Linked DNA regions of Homo sapiens: regions 1, 3, 4 and 5 are each reported to be linked to region 2. Evidence: microRNA targets listed by miRTarBase, many of them from high-throughput screens and not tested one by one. Region 2 holds a microRNA gene; each other region holds the end of a gene's coding sequence.
The links. The annotated mature microRNA hsa-let-7f-5p reads UGAGGUAGUAGAUUGUAUAGUU and lies in region 2 at 1,697-1,718, shown strand. An mRNA with a match to its seed (bases 2 to 7 or 8) in the 3' UTR can be bound and repressed. Matches are read on the target gene's strand: a 7mer-m8 pairs with bases 2 to 8, a 7mer-A1 pairs with bases 2 to 7 and ends in A, and an 8mer does both.

Region 1: the mRNA of CASTOR2 is a reported target of hsa-let-7f-5p. Seed matches in the 3' UTR shown: 7mer-m8 at 2,178-2,184.
Region 3: the mRNA of CNOT8 is a reported target of hsa-let-7f-5p. The part of its 3' UTR that is shown has no 7-base or 8-base seed match.
Region 4: miRTarBase lists ASTE1 as a target of hsa-let-7f-5p. The part of its 3' UTR that is shown has no 7-base or 8-base seed match.
Region 5: miRTarBase lists FNDC9 as a target of hsa-let-7f-5p. Seed matches in the 3' UTR shown: 8mer at 2,126-2,133.

Annotation. Positions count from the first base shown.
Region 1 is chr7:75,022,761-75,027,209 of GRCh38, forward strand. CASTOR2 (cytosolic arginine sensor for mTORC1 subunit 2) reads left to right here. Exons shown (of 9, transcript NM_001145064.3): 8 at 1,680-1,774; 9 at 1,874-4,449. The coding sequence ends at 1,939. It also overlaps a transcript of RCC1L not described here. Among named protein-coding and RNA genes, the nearest start is that of RCC1L, 49 kb to the right of the region's middle.
Region 2 is chrX:53,555,964-53,558,963 of GRCh38, reverse strand. MIRLET7F2 (microRNA let-7f-2) reads left to right here and starts at 1,690; the gene lies at 1,690-1,772. HUWE1 (HECT, UBA and WWE domain containing E3 ubiquitin protein ligase 1) reads left to right here. Exons shown (of 84, transcript NM_031407.7): 59 at 155-309; 60 at 1,537-1,582. MIR98 (microRNA 98) reads left to right here and starts at 2,623; the gene lies at 2,623-2,741.
Region 3 is chr5:154,874,440-154,878,999 of GRCh38, reverse strand. CNOT8 (CCR4-NOT transcription complex subunit 8) reads right to left here. Exons shown (of 7, transcript NM_001301073.2): 7 at 2,208-3,710. The coding sequence ends at 3,561. LOC124901119 (a long non-coding RNA gene) reads right to left here and starts at 241. Exons shown (of 2, transcript XR_007059011.1): 1 at 1-241.
Region 4 is chr3:131,010,606-131,015,165 of GRCh38, forward strand. ASTE1 (asteroid structure-specific endonuclease 1) reads right to left here. Exons shown (of 6, transcript NM_014065.4): 6 at 3,270-3,782. The coding sequence ends at 3,452. It also overlaps a transcript of ATP2C1 not described here. Among named protein-coding and RNA genes, the nearest start is that of ASTE1, 14 kb to the right of the region's middle.
Region 5 is chr5:157,339,550-157,344,109 of GRCh38, forward strand. FNDC9 (fibronectin type III domain containing 9) reads right to left here. Exons shown (of 2, transcript NM_001001343.4): 2 at 2,049-3,994. The coding sequence starts at 3,987. The coding sequence ends at 3,313. It overlaps CYFIP2 (cytoplasmic FMR1 interacting protein 2), which reads left to right. Exons shown (of 31, transcript NM_001037333.3): 23 at 1,521-1,608. Among named protein-coding and RNA genes, the nearest start is that of FNDC9, 3.8 kb to the right of the region's middle.

The DNA.
Region 1 (4,449 bases), not on the chromosome of region 2:
TGCACTCCTGCCTGGGCAACAGAGCAAGACTCTGTCTCAAAAAATAATAATAAATTTAATTTAAAAAAGAATAAATTGGGGCTGTGATAAAAATTAAAGAGAAAAAAAATCACTCCTTATTTCCACAGCTCAAAGATAATAACTGCTGGCAATTTTTTAACATGTTTTCTTCACGTAAATACATGTAATTGTCACATATCTCCCAGAGAGTCTGACACCCAACACTTTACTCCTAAATGCCTCGCCTTTTCCATCCTGGGAAGAAGCACCGGGCAAGGTGGCTTACGCCTGTAATCCCAGCACTTTGGGAGGCCGAGGCAGGAGGATCACAAGGTCAGGAGATCGAGATCATCCTGGCTAACACAGCAAAACCCTGTCTCTACTAAAAATACAAAAAATTAGCCGGTCGTGGTGGCAGGCGCCTGTAGTCCCAGCTACTTGGGAGGCTGAGGCAGGAGAATGGCATGAACCTGGGAGGCGGAGCTTGCAGCAAGCCGAGATGGCGCCACTGCACTCCAGCCTGGGCGACAGAGCGAGAGTCCACCTCAAAAAAAGAAAAAAAAAAGAAGAAACACTTTCTCCTATATAACCACAATGACAGGATTCCACAGGAGAAAATTTTCAGTCATTCCCTAAGACTTAGTCTTTCCTCTGTTTCCACAGTTGTCCAGACAACGTCTTTGGTGGATAGCATTTTTTTTTTCTTTTTGTTTTTTGTTTTTTTTTTTTTTGAGACCGGATCTTGCTCTGTTGCCCAGGCTGAAGTGCAATGGCGCAGTCTTCGCCTCCTGGGTTCAGCCTCCCAAGTAGCTGGGACTATAGGCACGTGCCACCACGCCCGGCTAATTCTTGTAGTTTTAGTAGAGATGGGGTTTCACCATGTTGGCCAGGCTGGTCTCGAACTCCTGACCTCAAGTGATCCACCCGCCTCGGCCTCCCAAAGTGCTGGGATTACAGGCGTGAGCCACCACTCCCAGCCAAGGTGCCACACTTTTAAATAGCCAGATCTCGTGAGGACTTACTGTCACGAGAACAGTACCAAGAGGATGAGGCTAAACCATTCATGAGGAATCCACCCTCATAATCCAGTCATCTTGCACCAGGCCCCACCTCCAATACTTGAGATTACAATTGGAGGATTTGGGCAGGAACACAAAGCCAAACTATTTCACTGGCCAGCGACCAGAGAAGGCTCCTGGTTGGGGGACATCTGGGTTAAGCCTTCAAGAGGGATGGCCAGTGGGAGGCCAGGCACGGTGGCTCACGCCTGTAATTCCAGCACTTTGGGATGTGGAGGTGGGTGGATCATTTGAGTACAGCAGTTCGATACCAGCCTGGCCAACATGGTGAAACCCCATCTCTACTAAAAATACAAAAAAATTAGCTGGGCATGGTGGTACACGCCTATAATCCCAGCTATTTGGGAGGCTGAGGCACGAGGATTGCTTGAACTCAGGAGGTGGAGGTTGTAGTGAAGTGAGCTCACGCCAGTGCACTCCAGCCTGGGCGATGGAGCGAGACTCCATCTCAAAAAAAATAAAAGGGATAGCAGATGGGAATTCTCTAGGAGGATGGTGGGTGCAGGGTAGGCATTGCCCACAGAGGGTAGAGGCTGAAGAGCCACACAGGCAAGGGTAGCCAGGTTACACAGAGGCTAAGGACGGTCTCTCCTGTTCTAGATGAGTGTGGCATCGTGGCCCAGATCTCAGAGCCCTTGGCTGCTGCAGACATCCCAGCCTACTACATCAGTACTTTCAAGTTTGATCATGCACTTGTGAGTGTCCAGCGCCAGACCCCTCCAGGGCAGGGCCGGGGTGGGGAAGCAGGTTCCTGGGCTCACGGGCAGGCATCTGCCTCCTCTACCCCTGCACAGGTCCCCGAAGAGAACATCAATGGTGTCATCAGTGCCCTGAAGGTCAGCCAAGCAGAGAAGCACTAGAAGGGTCTCTTCTGCTCCTCCCTGCCGCCGCCCGGGCCCAGCCCTAACCCTGAAGATTGATCTTGCAGTATTTCTCTACAGACTGGAAAATCAGCCTGGGGACCCTGAGGAAGGGGCCTCTGTGGGAGACTCCCTCGATTGCCAATCCCTCCAGGGCAGGGGCCCACGCCAAGGCCTCTCCATGCCCTCCTGCCTTCCCGGAGCCCCCCGACCCTCCAGAGAACGACCTTTCTCTTCCCTACCTCCCCCACCCCGGAAAATGCTTTCGGAGGCCCAGGGAGCTTGTGAGCTGATCCGCCTTCTCATCCGGCCTCACCCACGGCCAGGGGCAGATGCCGAGGGAAGCCGGTCCCTCCTGCGAGACACCGGTGTGCCAGCTGTCATGTCACCTTGCAGGGCTGGGGCTGGCGGGGTGGGGCCGAGTTTGGGGTGCCCTGGAGGGTTTGGGGGTGAGTACTGTGGTCACTGGTCTCTGCTTCCATCAGCTCAGGGCTGGTTCCCTCGGAGTGGAGGCCAGCGTGGCCCCCTCAGGTCATCGGGGCTGGTGAGGCTCAGACAGGAACCCAGGTGGGATCCCCGAGCTGGGAAGGACCCAGACTCCCCCTGTACCTCGCCTGCCAACCACAGGGCCTGGGCCCGACTCCCAGCAAGACTGCCAAGAGGGCCCTGTCCAGACCCTCCCCCACAAGCACTCAGTCCTTGGGGGAGGAGGGAGGGTCCCAGGAGACCCACCAGCCTGGAGCACCAGCTCCTGTCCCCTCGGCTCTCCCTGGACCCGACTTGGGCAGGTAGAGCCTCAGCTTCCCCCAGTAGGGACATCCCTGGCTTTCCAGGCCTGAGGTTTCTTAGGTGGTGTCCCACCTCCCCAACAGACAACTAGACCAGCATAGGACTCCCCGCCGTCCTCCTCCCTCCTCTGCCCCCAAGTCACCTGCCTGCCCACCCGCCCCTTGGCTGGGGGCTGTGGCATTCATGAGTACTTGACCCAGGAGGCAGCTTAACTGAGCCTTAATAGAGAAAACCATACTTTGTTTTAGTTTTTTATTTAATGTATTTGCACCCAGGGTGCTCTTGGCGGTAGTTTCTGTTTGGCAGGGATAGGACCTGTTTGAGTTCTGTCAAGGGAGCCTGGAGGCTCTGTGTCACTAAGCTGGTGCTCTGTGGCTCCAGGGACAGGCAGTGGGAATCGGGAGATGTCACAGGAGCCTGGGCCCTCTCTTCTGAAGGGAAGCTAGGAGCAGAGATCTGTTACAAGACGCTGGAGCCGCTGGCACCCCACATGGGAACTCCCACCAACCAGCTGTAGTTCTATCTGAGCACCGGAGGGGGTGAGGGAACCCGAGGGCCATGGGGAGGTGGACAGCCAGGTGGCAGGCCAGCTGAGTGGTCATGTCCAGGAGGCATGGGGTTAGCCGTGGTGTCCCTTCCAGTGGGGTGGTTTTCTGAATGAGCAGGACCAAGGGCCCCTGTGGTTTTGGCTCTGGCGGGGGTTTTTTTTTTTTTTTTTGAGATGGGAGTCTGGCTCTGTTGCCTAGGCTGGAATGCAGTGGCACGATCTTGGCTCACTACACCCTCCTCCTCCCAGGTTCAAGTGATTCTCCTGCCTCGGCCTCCCAAGTAGCTGGGATTACAGGCACGCACCACCACGTCTGGCTAGTTATTGTATTTTTTAATAGAGACGGGATTTCGTAACATTGCTCAGGCTGGTCTTGAACTCCTGAGTTAAGTGATCCGCCTGCCTCGGCCTCCCAAAATGCCGGGATTACAGGCGTGAGCCACCACACCCAGCCGAGTTGTGCTGTTTCTGTGGTCAGAGGAGAAGGGATATTTTCTAGTCCTGACAAAGTGTTCCCTGCTTCTCTGAGTGGGACCCTCTGAGCCCTGGAAGCCCACCAGAAGGAGAAGCTGTTCTTTAAAATCCTTGTGGGTGTTGAAGGCCCACCACATTAATTAGAAACCAACTTTTTTTTTTTTAAGTTAATTTGTTTTGCACAAAACTCCAGAACAAAACTCGTACATTGCTGGTCCCAAAAGGGAGGTGGCCAAGTGGGGCAGGGCTGTGGTGGAAGCCCTGAGTCCCCTTTCTGACCTTGCAAGGCCTTGATTTTCCTTTCTGTCATTTCCCCCTGACGGTGTCACTTCTCTGCCTTTCCTTCCCGCCGTGCAAGTGTGTCGGCCCCGTGACCCCAGAGTCGTGTGTCCCCTAGACTTCCTAGGACGTATCTATTGTACACACCTATAAATACCTGTGTTTTATGTTGATAGAGATATATACTGTAAATAGCATATATACTTGAGCAATATATATGTTAATATATACTGTGTGCGCAGTCCGTGGACACAGCCCCCCGCTGTGTGTGCACACGTGTATGGGCGTGATGGCCTCCACCCCGCACCGTCTGCCATACACGCGGGCACATTTGAGCCACCATATATTTTTAATTCAAGTATATAGGCAATACGATTATTACAGAAGCCGATGGGTTCCCTCAGACCTGACTTGAGAGAAC
Region 2 (3,000 bases):
GCAGCTTGGTTATCAGGGCAATAGTGAGCCTTCCAGAGCTAGGGCAAACGTGTGGAGAGTTGTTTCCCTGGTTCTCTGTGGCTACAAGCTCTGCCTCTTGGCTTCCTCCCTGACCCCACCAGAGCAGCCTTTGATTTTTGCCTCTTTGAAACAGTGGTTAAAGTGTCCATTGTCAATCACCTGGAATTCCTGAGGGATGAGGAGCTGGAAGAAAGGCGAGAGAAGCGCAGGAAACAACTGGCTGAGGAAGAAACAAAGATAACTGATAAAGGCAAAGAAGATAAGGAGAACAGGGATCAGAGTGCACAGGTGATTCCCAAGGGCTGGGAGGATTCATCTTTGACTGTGTCTGCCGTAATGTGGTTTTGGCATACACATGGCACCAGGAATCACTGAAGAATCCTAGAACGTTCACGTTGAACCTGGGAAATTTTTTATTTCAAATTCACCATACATTGACCTGGTTTTTAGGGGAAAGAATTCAAACCTAGAGGGGAGATTTCTCAAGTGTCAAGGGAAAAACTGGAGCCAGAAGCAGAATGGCTTCTCACTCAACAGTCACACTGCATAGTCTCTACCGCCAAGGACAGCATCAAGACAAGGAGAAAAACCTTATCTAAGTCCATGCTCTTAGTCGCCCACTTCCATTTCTGTCGGTGAACTGCCAGTGTGGGGAATCTTACCGAGATGACCCCATTCCGTCATTTGAGTAAGATCAGCCTAGGTGTCAGATCAGAGAAAATGTTTGTACTCTGAACCCCATCACCACATGTCATTTTTTCTAGGGCTCACATGTATAAAATCACTAATACAATTTTGGTTTAGAAGGAAGTTACCTACTTTTTTCTGAAACTTCTGGGACCTCAGACAGAGATCTTTTAAATGTCTGAGTAAATGTTGATAGAATTATACATTACAGTGTATCACTTGATATAAAAGGGGGAAAAACTGATAGAAATACAAAGAAATAAGACTTGAGAGTGAAAGACTTTAGTATACCCTACTCAGCAGTTAAGGAATCAGGTAGATTAAAAATAAGGGTAGTGAAGTGTTCAGTTAAAATAACAAGGTTGATCTAACAAATATCTTTATATAGAACTTTTTACCTAATACACACATTGTTTCAAACTTGATATAGGATGAAAAATAAGTGAACCTAGCCTGTGACTGAAAAGACTAGAGTGGACAAAATAAAAAATAAGCCCCATGAAGGGAAAAAATACATAGATGAAACCAAGAAATTCTTGCTAGAATGATCATGATCGTGCCCATCCCTAAGGGGTTTTTATTATCCTTTCCTTCCATATTTATTTCCCCCTCAGCCCCAAACAATTCTTGAACCTGAGTATGTATAGAGAAATTGGTCATATATTTGCACAGTGAAATGATCACCTTCCTTTGGTCACATGGCCAAAGCATTCTCCATTAGATCACTGAACTCCTAGATGGTCTGGGTGGAGGATGGTGACTATTACAGTTGACCTCTATCTTAGGTGCTTGCAAAGTCCCACATTGGTCTATCCCTTCTTTTTGCAGTGTACTGCATCTAAGTCAAATGACTCCACTGAACAGAATCTCTCAGGTAACTCTCCTTCCCTTTCTCCCTTCTTACTAATCAATTGGTTGCTTCTTTATCCTGATAGTTCCGAGTAGCTGGCCCACATAGGCTGAAGATGGACACTGGTGCTCTGTGGGATGAGGTAGTAGATTGTATAGTTTTAGGGTCATACCCCATCTTGGAGATAACTATACAGTCTACTGTCTTTCCCACGGTGGTACACTTCTTCTCCGACTGGCTCTGTTCAGGTTCTTGTTCTGGTTATTATCTACTTTGTTCTGGCATGGGTAATGAGGTCATGTGTCTTGTTCATTTCCTGACTGCAACTCTGTCCTCTGAAACAGCATGTTCATGTACATCTTTGAAGTGGCTGGTCCTTTGATGACCACCATGGTGTGGCACTTCATGAGAATAACTGATGACAGTGGTTCTCAAATGCCAGTCCTCTGTGGAAACGAACAAAATCAAGGAGCTTTAATGCCTTTTTCATAAAGCTGAATTTATTCCATTTAAAAGGCTGTTTTTGTATTTAGAGATCATATTCCTAATTCTGTGGTACCAAAATATTTTTATTAAATGATGTTGATTGGATGTTTTTTCTTACATGGCTAAACTAAAAGTTGGCAACCCCTACATTAGTCTCTACTTTTTGTTCTTTTTTTAATTAAATTTTATTGGTCCATGGAATCTAAAAGTCTAGGAACATTGTCTTGGATAGTGTGCTGTTCATGAAGGTAGCTCTCTGGGCTTAGTGGTATGACTGCCGTATGTTTCCTATTCCCTCTGATCTTCTTAACAATGGTCAGTAGCCATTTTGTGATTCTATCAGTTGGTTCATGTGATATCATATGTCTCCCCCACCCATATTTCCTCAGAACATTCTTCTGCCTCCCTACACCTGTCTCCTTTCGCACTTGAGTTGGAAAATGATTGTACCAAAGCCTGCACAATATTTTTTAAAGCAGTGAAGTAGGGTAGATGCCTTGGTACCCTTAATCTAGCAAAAGATCTTTAAAAGAGTCTGTCACCATGTAAAATGGCCTTTTGCCTGCTGCCCTTATTAGAGGATTCTGCTCATGCCAGGGTGAGGTAGTAAGTTGTATTGTTGTGGGGTAGGGATATTAGGCCCCAATTAGAAGATAACTATACAACTTACTACTTTCCCTGGTGTGTGGCATATTCACACTTAGTCTTAGCAGTGTTGCCTCCATCAGACAAAGTTGTAGATGTTCCTTGGATAATTTGGACTGGAAGAAAAGAGACATGGAAGGGGACAGATGGTGTTTAGGGTGAGGCAGATGTCATTATAAAGTGACTTGTCTTTCATTAATTGGAGCATATAATTATTTTACCTTTGGGCATGAACTCATTTTGCTATTCTTCAACTGTGTAATGATTGCATTTTATTAGTAATAGAACAGGAATGTGTGCAAGGGAATGGA
Region 3 (4,560 bases), not on the chromosome of region 2:
GGTGGGTCTTGATTCCTTATTCCTGAGGCCATTGCAATGAGGCAGCAGGACGCATCTCCTCATGAGAGGTGATCAGAGACCCTTCCCTAGAGGAGAATGGGATGCCAGATGAGCCCCCAAATAGTTGGAAATAAGAGCTCGGAGTTGCAAAGAAAATGAGCTCTCAAAAGACTTCTCAGCAAGGCAAATTTACTTCTGAGAAGGGTGCTGCCTGCAACAGTCATGATCGCAAGAGCACACTGAACAAAGGAGAAAAGTTTTTATCCCTAATGCAGCTTCTGTTTCTGTGTCCTTTCCCCATTGGCTGTAGTCGGACCACACAATGTAAGCTAACCCGATTGGCTAAAACTTGAAATTTTTCCAAATAGGGTAGATGGGGAAGAAGGGGTAGGAGTGGTAAAACTTTTCCAAACAGAGTAAACTGAAACATTTAAATGCGTAACTTGTTGTTTTTTTTTTGTTTTGTTTTTTGTTTTTTTTGAGACTGTCTCTGTTGCCCAGGCTGGAGTGCAGTGGCGCGATCTTGGGTCACTGCAACCTCCACCTCCTGGGTTCACGCCATTCTCCTGCCTCAGCCTCCCAAGTAGCTGGGACTACAGGTGCCCACCACCATGCCCGGCTAATTTTTTGTGTTTTTAGTAGAGACAGGGTTTCACTGTGTTAGCCAGGATGGTCTCAATCTCCTGACCTCATGATCCACCCGCCTTGGCCTCCCAAAGTGCTGGGATTACAAGCGTGAGCCACTGTGCCCAGCCTAAATGCGTAACTTGTAAAGAAAAGAAAGGAGGGGAGGGAGGGATTGTCCGTTAAGGCATGTTTGGGCATGTTTAGGCATGGCAAAGATGGAAAGGCTTGTTTAGAGAACAAGAATGTATCTTCTAGCAATGTGAAATGACATTAGTCGCTAAAAGAAACAAAGAAGTTTGAAGAGGAACTGACTGTTTCTGGCACCAGCTATTTGGGAGGCTGAGGCAGGAGAATTGCTTGAACCTGGGAGGCGGAGGTTGCAGTGAGCCAAGATCATGCCACTGCACTCCAGCCTGGGCGACAGAACAAGACTCTGTCTCAAAAAAAAAAAAAAAAAAAAAAAAAAAAAGAATTACAAGCCAGCACGGTGGCTCATGACTGTAAGCACTTTGGGAGGCCAAGGCAGGCAAATCACTTGAGGTCAGGAGTTTGAGACCAGCTTGCCCAACATGGTGAAACCCCATCTCTACTAAAAAAATATAAACATTAGCTGGACATGGTAGCATGCACCTGTAGTCCCAGCTACTCAGGAGGGTGAGGGTGCAGTGAGCTAAGATCATGCCACTGCACTCCAGCCTGGATGACCGAGTGAGACCCTGTCTAAACCTCGAAAGAATTACACCTTAAGTGATTCTCTTGGTTACCCTACAGTGCCATCACTTTTTGAGGATGAGCATTCACATAGACCTATATGCACTCATACACACAAAGTTCTTGCCAGTTCCAAGACTTGTGCTCTTTCTTGCTAAAGCACTACTCTAAGCTCTTAACTCTCACATGCAATGATGACCAAACCCCACACTCAACACTGAGTTCCTCAACCCTTTGAGCATTTCTCCTGACATGTAAGTAAGTCCTTAATTGTAGAAAATATTAAATGTCCTGCTTTAATTCAAATTTGGAAGGGTATCTGCATAGCGCTCACAGTCACCAGCATGCCAGGGCACCCTGGTTGAGAACCACTGACTGCTGTTTCACCAGAAATTACAGTGATAAATCTCTTGTTTTGTCAACTTCCCAGTCACAATTCCATATCTGCCCCTGTACCAGACTTCTTAAAACCCCACATATTTTGTGTCAACAGAAATGGCTGGAAACAAAGTCTTGAGCCAACTCTAGGATATCTGAAGTTCAGGTTGTTTAAAAGAATCCCACTAATTAACAAGCTAATCCACCATATATAGTGGAGTGACCCCAGGAAATATTAGACTGGTTTAATTCTATAATATTAAGACCCAACAATCTTGAGTATGAAGAGACAATTCCATTTACACAGGTGCTCGTGAAAAGCTTCCTACCAAGTGATATGTATTTTTTTTATTCCCGAACCCACCCCCCAAGTGATATTTTGTATGTAAGCCAACTTGGGGACAATGGAGGCAAGATGCTCTTATTTCACTGATGGCAAATGACCATCTTCCAGAGCCAGCAATCCATAGCTATGAAAGACCAAACCTTAATGCCAGTGGTTAAAAAGAAATCTTTATTTTACAAAATTAAAAACATAAATAGTATTTACAAGCATCTTAAATACCAGCTTATAATACTTGACATTTTCTAATCATTTCAAATTGAGTTTCCCATAAGCTTTTAAAATGCAAGACCATTCATTCACTTGAGTGAGTTACCAGTTTTTACTTCCACCAATCCAAAGTGGGTTTTGGTTTTTGAAATTGTCCATACTGTAGTCATTCAAAAAAATACAATATGCTTTTGAAATGACTAGCTTTAAAGAAAAAAGTCCTGAGCTTCCTACCCCAGTTGTGGGATATTACTCCAAAACAACTCAAGAACCCAAATTATCTTACTGCCTGATTAAATGTAACCACTCTAGCTTTTTAAAGACACATTCCTGTTACTCACATTAATCCATCTCCCTCACGTTTCAGGTTTGCTGGAAGGAAAAGTAGAGAAATAATGGAGTAGAGAAGTGGGAGAATCCAGATGACCATCTGAAATCACATTACTGAAAATACAACAGACATGACCCAAAAATCTGATCTTACTAGTTTCCTTCAGGATCAAATCCAGGATATTTTATTGTACAAAAATTTCAAATGATTTCAGATGATGCATATGTGACAGCAAACCTGAATGGCACAATGGAACACAGACTTAAAAGATGCTTCAGTGGTCAACACTCATTCTGGAGTTCTCATGAATGAAGGGTAGACAGATTCAGTAAAATTGTTTGCTTTTCAGTTTCATTATCTGGTCTTCAAATTTCAGCACAGAGCAATTCATTTCCATATAGTAATATGTAAAGAGAGACTACAAAAGTGTGAGGAAAGCAAATGTCCTCGAGAAGGGTCAGAAAAGGAAAGGAAGACTCAGTATCTACAACCCATTACCTAAGAACACCATTTTGTTCCATTTTCCCTGGAAGCCCTCACAGCTCAGCTGAGAATCAGAGTAAGAATCTTCATTATCAGAGATTAGCAACAAATTTAAAAGAAAAAGAATGACAACAGGTAAGAGTTATATACATTTTACTACTTTGTTTCAGACTTGTCCTGATATTTAAAAAGGTGTCAAATGAGCCATGGATGCTGGTGGCAGGAGGCAACCAGAGAGGAGAGGCTCGAGTATGAGGAATGGGGAAGACTTATTTACAAATTCAGAGCAAACTCCTCTCTTCTGGGTCTAAAATAAAAACATCTTTTGTCTTCAGTAAAACAAAAGTCTTTCTGCTCAATGCAGATGGTAGGTACAGTGTGCTCAAAAGAAGCATTTTCTCTTGGGGAAGATAAGTACACAGTCAGCACAGTAAGCACCACTCTGGGATCAGGCCCACCCTGCAGAGCCTGGCGCCATCACTGCTGCATGTTGTTGATAATCGCCAGGATGCTCATCTTCTCCTGGGCAGAGTCCACATCCTCATTCTGCTTCTGGGCCACTCCTGTGCCTAAGCCATAGAGCCGCCCACAGTACTTGGCATCATCAATGCTGTCCTCAAAAAACAACTGCAGAATGGGACAGAGAACCATGGTGAGAGTTATGCTAGAAGTCATGACAAGTATAAATATTATCACATCTGGCCGGGTGCAATGGCTCACGTCTGGAATCCAAGCACTTTGTGAGGCTGAGGCGGGCAGATCACTTGGGGTCAGGAGGTCGAGACCAGCCTGGCCAACATGGCAAAACCCCATCTCTACTAAAAGTACAAAAATGAGCCGGGCATGGTGGCACATACCTGTAATCCCAGCTACTTGGGAGGCTGAGGCGGAAGAATCACTTGCGCCCAGGAGGCAGAGGGTGCAGTGGGCCAAGGCCGTACCACTGCACTCCAGCCTGGGCAACATAGCGAAGACTCCATCTCAAAAAAGAAAAAAACCACTACCACATCACCACCTCCCAGCCTTCCTAAAGCCCTGAAAATATACCAAACTAGAAAAAAAAACTAATAGTATAGAAAGGCTCGGCCAGGCACAGTGGCTCACGCCTGTAATCCCAGCACTTTGGGGCGCCAAGGCAGGTGGATTACGAGGTCAGGAGTTCAAGACCAGCCTGGCCAAGATGGTGAAACCCTGTCTCTACTAAAAATACAAAAAATTAGCCAGGCGTGGTGGCAGGCACCTGTAATCCCAGCTACTTGGGAGGCTGAGGCAGAGAATTGTTTGAACCCGAGAGGCAGAGGTTGCAGTGAACTGAGATCACACCACTGCACCCCAGCCTGGGTGACAATGCAAGACTCCGTCTCGAAAGAAAAAGAAAAAGAGACAGGGTTTCACTCACTGCAACCTCCGCCTCCCAGGCTCAAGTGATTCCCTTGCCTCAGCCTCCCGAGTAGCTGGGATTACAGGTGCATGTCAT
Region 4 (4,560 bases), not on the chromosome of region 2:
TGGGGATAATTCCTTCTGGTCTTTTTTCATTATTTTCTAAGTTTGAGCTTGGCTGCCCATTGAAATTGTCTTGGTAGTTTTCTACCCTTTCCAGTGTGGCTACGGCTGGAGTTGCTATAATATTCTCACATTCCTGCCCATCTTTCTTCTTCACCATATTTGATAGTGTTGATCTCCTTTGCCTCTGCAAAATTCTGCTCTTAAACCTGTGGCAACTCTGGTCTCACGTTGTCTTAATCTTTGTACTGCTTAACACTCACTCACTTCTTCCCACATTCCTTGCTTTGCCCTGGCTTTTCATGTGCGGATATAACAATGGCTATCACTTATAACACACTTTTAGTATCAGGCACTGTGCTAAGTAACTTAAATATACTTGTTATTGTATCTTTTACACAATAATTTGGACTGTTATAATCCTTATTTTGCAAGTAGGGCAACTGAGGCATAGTCATTGATTTATTTCCTTTTGTGCACAAAGGAGAAAAAGATAATTCTAAGGGCTTTTTAGCTATGGTCTTTATCTTCTGAAATTCAAATTCAGATGTCAAAAGGTTAATTTGAATTCTTTCCCCATGATCAAATGGCATGAAAGACCTGTGATTATATTTACAGGATGCATATTAAACTTTCAAGGTCCAGGTGTCTCAAAAAGTGCTTTTAAAAAATAGACTTCCAGTATAATTTTATCACCACTAAATACAGAACATGATTAGGTTATAGTAAAAGTTTTCCTGTCTCTGCAGCTTTCTCTCTAAAATTTATTCATCTTAGCTGCCCAGAGTTCCTTTTGTTACTTGAACTGCTAATTGAAGACAGTTTCCAAAGCCTAAGATGAGATTTCATTTGTTAGAACTGAATTAGAAAGAGCAGGACCTAATCACTTGATTGCAAACATAGGAAACTAGATTTTGGAAAGGGAATATGGGATGTACAATATTCTGCTTCTACACAGGTGTTCCTAATGTATATCTGATCTCAATTTTAAAATTCCTATTCTTTAAAGCCAGGTCAAAAGCCAGGTCTGAGAATCTTCTTGTGATTTAACCTCTTCTCATCCTGGTGACCGCTGTTTCCTTATTGTAGTATTCAGTCTGCACTTTGCCATTTTGCACTTGACAGACTGCTTTATGTAAGGGTAAAAACCACAGTTACTTTTGCACCAACTTAATAAAATAATCTCTTGTCATTTCATTGTGTGTTGTCTCCCAAGCAGCCTGAACAAGAATGTCTTCTGCAGGGGGTTCAGGTGCTATGTCATCATTTTTCGGTGAACCACCTTACATACTCCTGTGAAGTGCCTGTGACCTCTCATCTAATACATGTAGGAGAAGATATACACCAGAGTAGTATACTTAAAGGGACATTATTAGACTGTCACTGCTTTACTGCAAGGCTGGATAATTTCAGTGGAATGGTCCTGAGTGCCATGGTTAGAGAAAGGAACCTGACTTATTACTTCTGCTGGAGGAGGACACTTTTAATGAAAGAAAAACATGGTAGATGTAATTCAGTGGTTTTAAGAAGCAGTGTTGATGATAACCCAGGAAATGGGACAGTTATATTAATATAGTCTCCAGATTAGCTTCAAACTCCAGGAATCAAGGTAGGGAGGATTTGATATAACAACGGTCTTACATGGTTTTTCTTTTTTCTTTTTTTTTTTTTTTTTGAGACAGTCTTGCTCTGTCACCCAGGCTGGAGTACAGTGGCGCCATCTCGGTTCACTGCAGCCTCTGTCTCCCGGGTTCAAGCAGTTCTCCCGCCTCAGCCTCCTGAGTAGCTGGGACTACAGGTGCCCTCCATGATGCCCGGCTAATTTTTGTATTTTTAGTAGAGACGGGGTTTCACCATGTCGGCCAGGCTGGTCTTGAACTCCTGACCTCAAATGATCTGCCTGCCTTGGCCTTCCAAAGTGCTGGGATTACAGGTGTGAGCCACTACATCCAGCACCGGTCTCACATGTTTATAGTCCTCATTAGATACCTTATTTTCCAGTAACATTTCTTCTCAAAAATAGATGTACTTGACTACTCTTTTCTTGATTCTTCTGGGAGTAACCATCTCTTTGGAGATGGTTGTTAGTAAGGTTATAAAAATAACCTTACTGAGGAACTCCCATGCAATCCTCTGAAAATAATAAAAATTTCCTTATTTCAAGAACTCTTATTTAACAAAGTAATTGTTAGGGTTGAATACTCTAGGGGCAAATGATTTATTGTGCCTTTTGTAAAAGTCAACACTTGGCAGGTGTGTGTTTGACACTGGCTGATGCTGGGCTTATTTCTCTAAGAGTATGGTAATTCTAGTAAAGTAAAGAAAATTGTTTATCAGATATTAGGAACTGTACATAGGCCTGCTCAAAATGGCAGCTTTAAAGCTACCTTTAGGGCTATTCCTGATGGAATATACCAGTGGGAGAGTACAGAAGGAAGAACACAATTTGTATGAATACAAGTAAAATGAAGGTTGAGTATATTTTCAGATCTTGCCCAATGCATTTATTCTACTTGGTTCTCTTTATTTTCAAGTTCTCATTTGGAACTGGCCGGCACTTTCAGAACTCTGGGTATTTCTAATTTTAGCAGCCTCTATTTGGCAGTATTTTCCAGAGCAGTACCTTTTAAACTTCTTCCCTACAGTCCACAGTAAGGAATATATTTTACACAATCACCTAATACATGATATGTATATCTGATATTTTCCATTCTAACTTTTTCATTAAAAAATGCTGGGTATGACTCATTAAATACTTTCACATCTCATTAATGGGTCAAAATCTGTAGTATAAAGAGGGCATAGGGTCTGGTATTGCTGCATATATCTCTTGATATTTTCACTTCTCACTGTTTCCTCCTTCTCCAGGTCTAACAGCTCAGGATGCTGTTTCTTATTTGGCTGAAGCCATTAGTTTCAACTTCTCCTTTAAAACCTGGAGTGCACCTAAAGTGCTCTTCAATCCTGTCATGGTCTCATTGACTAAGTACTTACTTTTAGTAGAGACAGTTTTCTGTCTGGCATCCTCACTTCTAACTTTCATTGGCCAGACTTCATACTAAAGTACAAAGAGGAAACTGTTTTTAAAACTTTTTGAAATGATAACCAGCTGCTACTTAAAGGCAATAATTGAGTGAGACTTCTACTTTCTGAGAATGTAGCTGGCTAAATTGCTGCAATTTAAAGCATATAGACTATATTACCATTAACTTGCTGAAATGGAACATGAGAAGTATAAACATGGTTTCAAACATATTTAGAAATACAGAAGCTTCTTAAATCAGGTTGTATTTATTAAAAACAAAATACAAAATAACTTGGAATTCAGATTATTGTGATGTTTATCCCCTAACAGGTCAGTCCTAAAGAAAAAGCTAATTGTTTCAAGGGTGGTAACGGAAGAATTTTAAGTAAGGATTATATTAAATACATCTAGTTTGATGCAAACTGAGTTTTATTCAATGTTGGAGGCCTCACTATGTTCCTCTAAGTTTTCAACCATTAACAACCCAAACCGGTTGTTTCCCTCATACCAACACTTGGTGTGTGCAGTGGTTCTCCCTCTGTTCTTAGAACAGCTGGTATTCTGTTTCTTCTGCCTTTTTTTTTTTGAATTTGATCTACCTTTTGGTAGGAATATTTCAGCGGGGGCATATGACCTTGTGGCATTGAATAGATATTCATAAAGTTGCTTAGCCTCAGGACATATGCTCAGGAGACTTTCTACAGAGGTCGATGCTAGCAGTTGCTGGCATAGTCCGTGCACCAGGCTTCCACTGTACAGTCTGTTCAAAGCAAGAAAAAAGTATGTTGTTAAAGAAGTAATTCAGTGCAACAGGATAACTACCATTGACATAGCTTCAACAAATGCATCTAAACAATGAGAGCTCTTATTGCTCTATAATATTATCGAAATTACTTAAGAATAATCTGTTCTTTGAAGGAAGGAACTGAGCTGGTATGACAAAGATTCTTTGCTGGTGATACTTAAAAACTTTTCATCAACAAATTACGTGATGCATGCTTAGTGGTTTTGCAGCTAGCCCCAGACTGAGCAGGTGTCTTTAACAAACACTTTAATTTTAAAGAAAAGGAATTTAAAAGGACCCTGATAAACCAAACAGGCAGTTTGTTAGAATATGAGAAAATTTATTGGCATCATTTGCAAGGTCATTCACTGAGACTAAAAACCTACTTCACAAATAGAAGATGGGATTAATTGGAATCCACAAGTTTATTATGGACAAAGCTGATAAACTGGTACCTTAGCAATCCATGTAGAACCATCATTTAATCAGTGTAACATCTCTGTGTAAAAAGCCTTGGTTATGCTAAGATTCAAGAACAATCCTGCTGTTTAAATCATTATTAAGAGAACTGTTTTGTTTTGCATTTCCTGTTTTGTTTTAAAAGGATTTGTGGTAACTAAAGAGGATCCAGTCAAGAATGGCCTTAAATTATTAAACGAAAGAAATAAAGAATCCAGGGGTCAAAGGCCAATTAGTCTTATTTGTGTTAGCTCAGATATAAGGCCCAGAGATATATTAACAACACTGTTTACTG
Region 5 (4,560 bases), not on the chromosome of region 2:
TGAGCAGATACCTTCCTGCCTCTTGAGTCTTCAGACTAGAGGAGGATGTGGGTGATCAATCACATGACAAATGTACCATTACAAACAGTGAATAAGGAGATGAAGGAAAGCCCACAGGGCCATGACAGTGGTAACAGTACCACCTATTCCAGTCCAAAAAGTCATGCAAACCTCAACGGAGGCTTCCTCTTTGAGGAAGTAATGCTGGAGTTAAGATGCAAAGGATGACTAGGAATAAATAAGGCAAAAAGGCAGGAGAAGAATATTCCAGACAAGTTTCTAAGGGTTTCTCCAAGAAGTTGATGAGGGTAAAACTAGTCGGGTGGGAAATGGTGCTGTGAAAGATAACACAGGAACAGATTGTGCAGTACTCTACAGGCCAGGGCAGGATCGTGCATTTTTATTAACCCTGAAAGAGTTTGAGGAAAGGAGATGACATGATCAGATTGTATGTTTGTAAGGATATCCACGTATCTGAAAGCATGCCTGCAAAACAGCATACATTTGCAGAGCACACATACGCATGACAAAGTGGAACTTGCCTCCTGCAAGGTGCACACGGCCCGGGGCCAGGCACTGAGGTAGAGACAAGACCTAATTTCTTTATCCCCACAAAGTTTCATAACCCAGTGGAAGAGTAAGGCATATATATTCACATACAAAATAAGTATGTAAGGATGCAAAAAAAATGTATTCATCTGCAGATCTTCTAGGTATCTCCAAGCCTTGGCTCAAGGCCAGTATTGAATGAGTGTGTGTTGAATGAATGAAAGGGTATGGGAGATATCCACAAATGCACCTGGATCCACACACTAAGTGAGATAGATTTCCAGTTCTATAAAGATTTAGGAGCTTTAACACTCTTGAGCAGGGAGCAGCAAACTGTGGCTCACAGGCCACATCTAGTTGCTGACTGTTTTTGTAAAGCCCATGAGCTGAGAATAGTATTCACACTTTTGGGTGGTTGAGGGGAAAAAATCCAAAGAAGAATAATATTTGGTGACAAGTGAAAATGATTTGTATTTGATAAAGTTTTATTGGAACTCGATCATGCTCATTTGTTTATTATTGTCTGTGGGTGCTTCCATGCTGCAACAGCAGAGTTGAGTACTTGCAACAGAGACCGTCTGGCTTCCAAAGCTAAAAATATTTGCTGCCTGGCTCTTTTGAGAAAGAGTTTGCTGAACTCTGCTCTTGAGAAACCAAACTGGAGGTAGAGGAGTGGAGCCCTAGAGAAAGTCCACTCTTAGTTTCTTGCCTAGTGTCATTCGGAGCAGCCACAAGCCCCTGGTTGAGCCCAGGAATCTAGACTGAATTTTTCCCATCTATAGAAAGGAGACGGCAGTTGAATGGGAAGATGTCAGAAGAGTTTAGTACCTTTATAGTCAACCACCTAACAAACAGTGCACTTGTACCAGTGCAAACCTTCACCTGGCCAGGAAGCACTCCTGTTATCTGTGTCCCATGGAGAATAATATTAGGACCATATTAACTCTTTCCCATCCCTATGCTTCTACTAGTTTTGTGCGGACTGCCATTCCTTTCACCCAAGAACCACAACGAGACAAACCTGCCAACGTCCAGCCTTATTACCTCTATGGATCCAAGGTAAGTAGTCCTGCCCTACCCTGCCTAGAAGAGGGTTGGTGAGAAAAAGCAAATAGAAAAGTGTCTCTTAATTAGAAGAGTAAGAAGGTGCAGAGATAAAGGCAGCAATGAGGTCAGGCACAGTGGCTCATACCTTTAATCCCAGCACTTCAGGAGACCGAGACCAGTGGATACTTCAGGCCAGGAATTTGAGAACAGCCTGGACAACATAGCGAGACCCTGTCTCTACCAAAAAAATAAAAAATAAAAAATTAGCTAGACATGGCGGCATGCACCAGTAGCTACTTGGAAGGCTAAGGCAGGGGGATCCTTTGAGCCCAGGAGTGTTATGCTGCAGTGAGCATGATTGTACCACTTCGCTCCAGCCTGGCTGACAGGGCGAGACTCTTATCTCTAAAGAGAAAGGAAAAAGGCAGCAATAAGATCCAGGCAGAAACAGCTGTGAGTATATGAATCTTTATTTGTTCACAAGTAGCAGGAATGGGGGCAAAAGTCTGGGTGCCGAGCAGGGAATGCATGAGGTAGGCAAGGGAATAGGGATGTGGGGCTTCTCGTCTTGGCTTCTCAGCTCCTGCTGTTTCTTAGTTGATTCACTGCAGTGTCGTCCTGTGATTCTGGGATTTTGTGCTCTATAGATATAAGAGGGTACTGGGAAGGTCTTGGATGATGCTTGGAGAGTACAGGCGTCTTCTCCAGAACAGCCTGCCTAGTCTGGTCAAGACAATTTTCTCAAATCAAGGGAAGCTGACTGACAGCATTTGAGGTGGTTCACAGACATGGCATTTAACTAACACTGACTCGCAAAGTAAAAACAGCACTTCCCTTTTCGATTCTCTTTCAAACCTTATGCTATATCAAGGAGAAAGACAAATATTGGTGCTAATATGTCTTTATTACCTCTCCAACACTGGATCTCCCTTTTTATCAAAGACAAGCAAGCAGGCATTAAGCTCAGAATCACTGGCAGGCAATAGAAGCTAAGTCAGATTATTTAATATTATCTTGTTTTCATGATGTTTATTCTTATGTCTCTTCCCTTCTGTTTGCAGCAGGAGGGTGCTGGTTTTTCACTTATGGAGTAATATAAGGCTGTCTTTGAAAATAAGTTTACGCTTAAAAAATGAGTCAATTTAAAGGAAAGTATTATTAATAATAGTGAAGATAATCCATGGTTTTAAAAAATAGAGAGCGGTGGTATGTGATTGCCTAAAAGTTGGAAAACACTCCAGAGCAAGGGTTCTCACAAATTATTTCCAAATAATCCCAAATTATTTCCAAATAATCCCCTCAAGGGCAGAGGAAACTGGACATCTACCTTTGCCCAAAAGTGTACCTCTGAGAGCCTACTTGTAACTCAAGTGTTTCCTTCAAGTGCTGTGTTTTATTTGTCATGCAAATTTTTGCTTTCTACTTTATAACATATCCATGTTTGTTTTAATGTTAAAACAATGCTTTCAATTCTTAACTGTGTCCTCCGAGTGGACGCTGCTGCTGAGATGCCTCGTTTGTGCCTTGGCATACCCTGGGGGATACATTTTCCAGCTTGAGAAGCTTTGTCATGGGGCATTCATCCAACCCAGGTGACCTACAATAGCAGTGACGTTTGATGGGAGAGAAATGGGTAGTCTATAGACACATTTGTACAAACGACCTACTGTGTGGAAAGCTTTAGGCTACATGATGCGGGCGCTCTCCTCCCCACTCTCATTCCCCACAATGAGGCAGTATAGCGGGTGGGTCACCACCCCCCCTCTGTAAGGCACCCGCATCAGGGGCATCCTGGTTGGCTTCGGGATCCAGTTCAGCTCCATCTCTGGAGTTCTTGCGTGGCATTTCCACCAGGGGGAGCCCCTGCAGGTCTTCCTCCCTCTGACCAAGATCCGGGGCCTCCTCTGGCCATCTCACCAACCCATTGGCCTCCTCCATGTGGCCAGCCCTGTAAGACCATCGCGGCTCATGGCAACGGACACACCAGAACTGGAGGCAGATGAAGGCCAAGACGGCTGTGAAGCAGGCCAGCAGAATGGCCATCAGCACCCAAAGGGAGATCTGGGGGTCTACCAGGGAGCTTCCAGGAGCCAGCGGACTCTTATCCAGGGTGTGGAACATGGTGCAGTAGTGCCTGTAAGGGAAGGCAGCCTTCTTACAGCTGATGCACAGGAAGTAGAGAGTGGAAGGGGCAAGATGTTCCAGCACCACGGAGCTGATCGTTCGAGGCACCTTCTCCTCGTGGTGGAAGCTGTAGCGAAGATAGCCAGAGAAGATGCTGTTCCAGTTGGGCCTGTACATAATATGGTAATAGTCCTCCAGGCAGGGCTCCGAGGACGACCAGGAGATGATGGCTCCTGTATAAGAAATGTTCCCCACCTCGATGTTCATCCCGATTCTGGAACCAGAATCAAAGTGAAGAGTGACATCCCCTGATTTAAGTATGTATTTATCATAATCATAGCCACCATTTATTGCACATTTGAGACGGGCACTCATGTTGCCCTCATCTTACAGACAAAGAAATGGAGGCCGAGAGGTTCTGTTATTTAGGCATAGCGAAAAAGTGGCAGGACAAAAGTTAAAACTGGGGCTGTCCCATGCCAAAGTTCAGGCCTAAGAACAGATGCACCCATGCAATCCCAGCCACATCCCACCCTAGCTGAGATCCTTCAGATAACAAAGGGGATTTTCTTAAGGGGATTGTTCTCATCCCCTTAAGAAAAAAGAAGAAAAGGTAAGGAGAAATCAGTAGAACCTCAGAGGCTCCACCTTTATTCTCAGGTCTGTGACCTCCCCTCAGGCAATTGATTCACCTCAATTTTCCTTCTTGACCTCCTGTTTCTGCTCCAAGTACTGTGAGCTCAGTGATCTAGAACATTCTGCCCACTGCTTTTTTTAGCCTCCTGGTTCTGTTGCCCATGGTGAGTGGAAATTCGCTTCGTCACTCTTTGGCAGCTGATC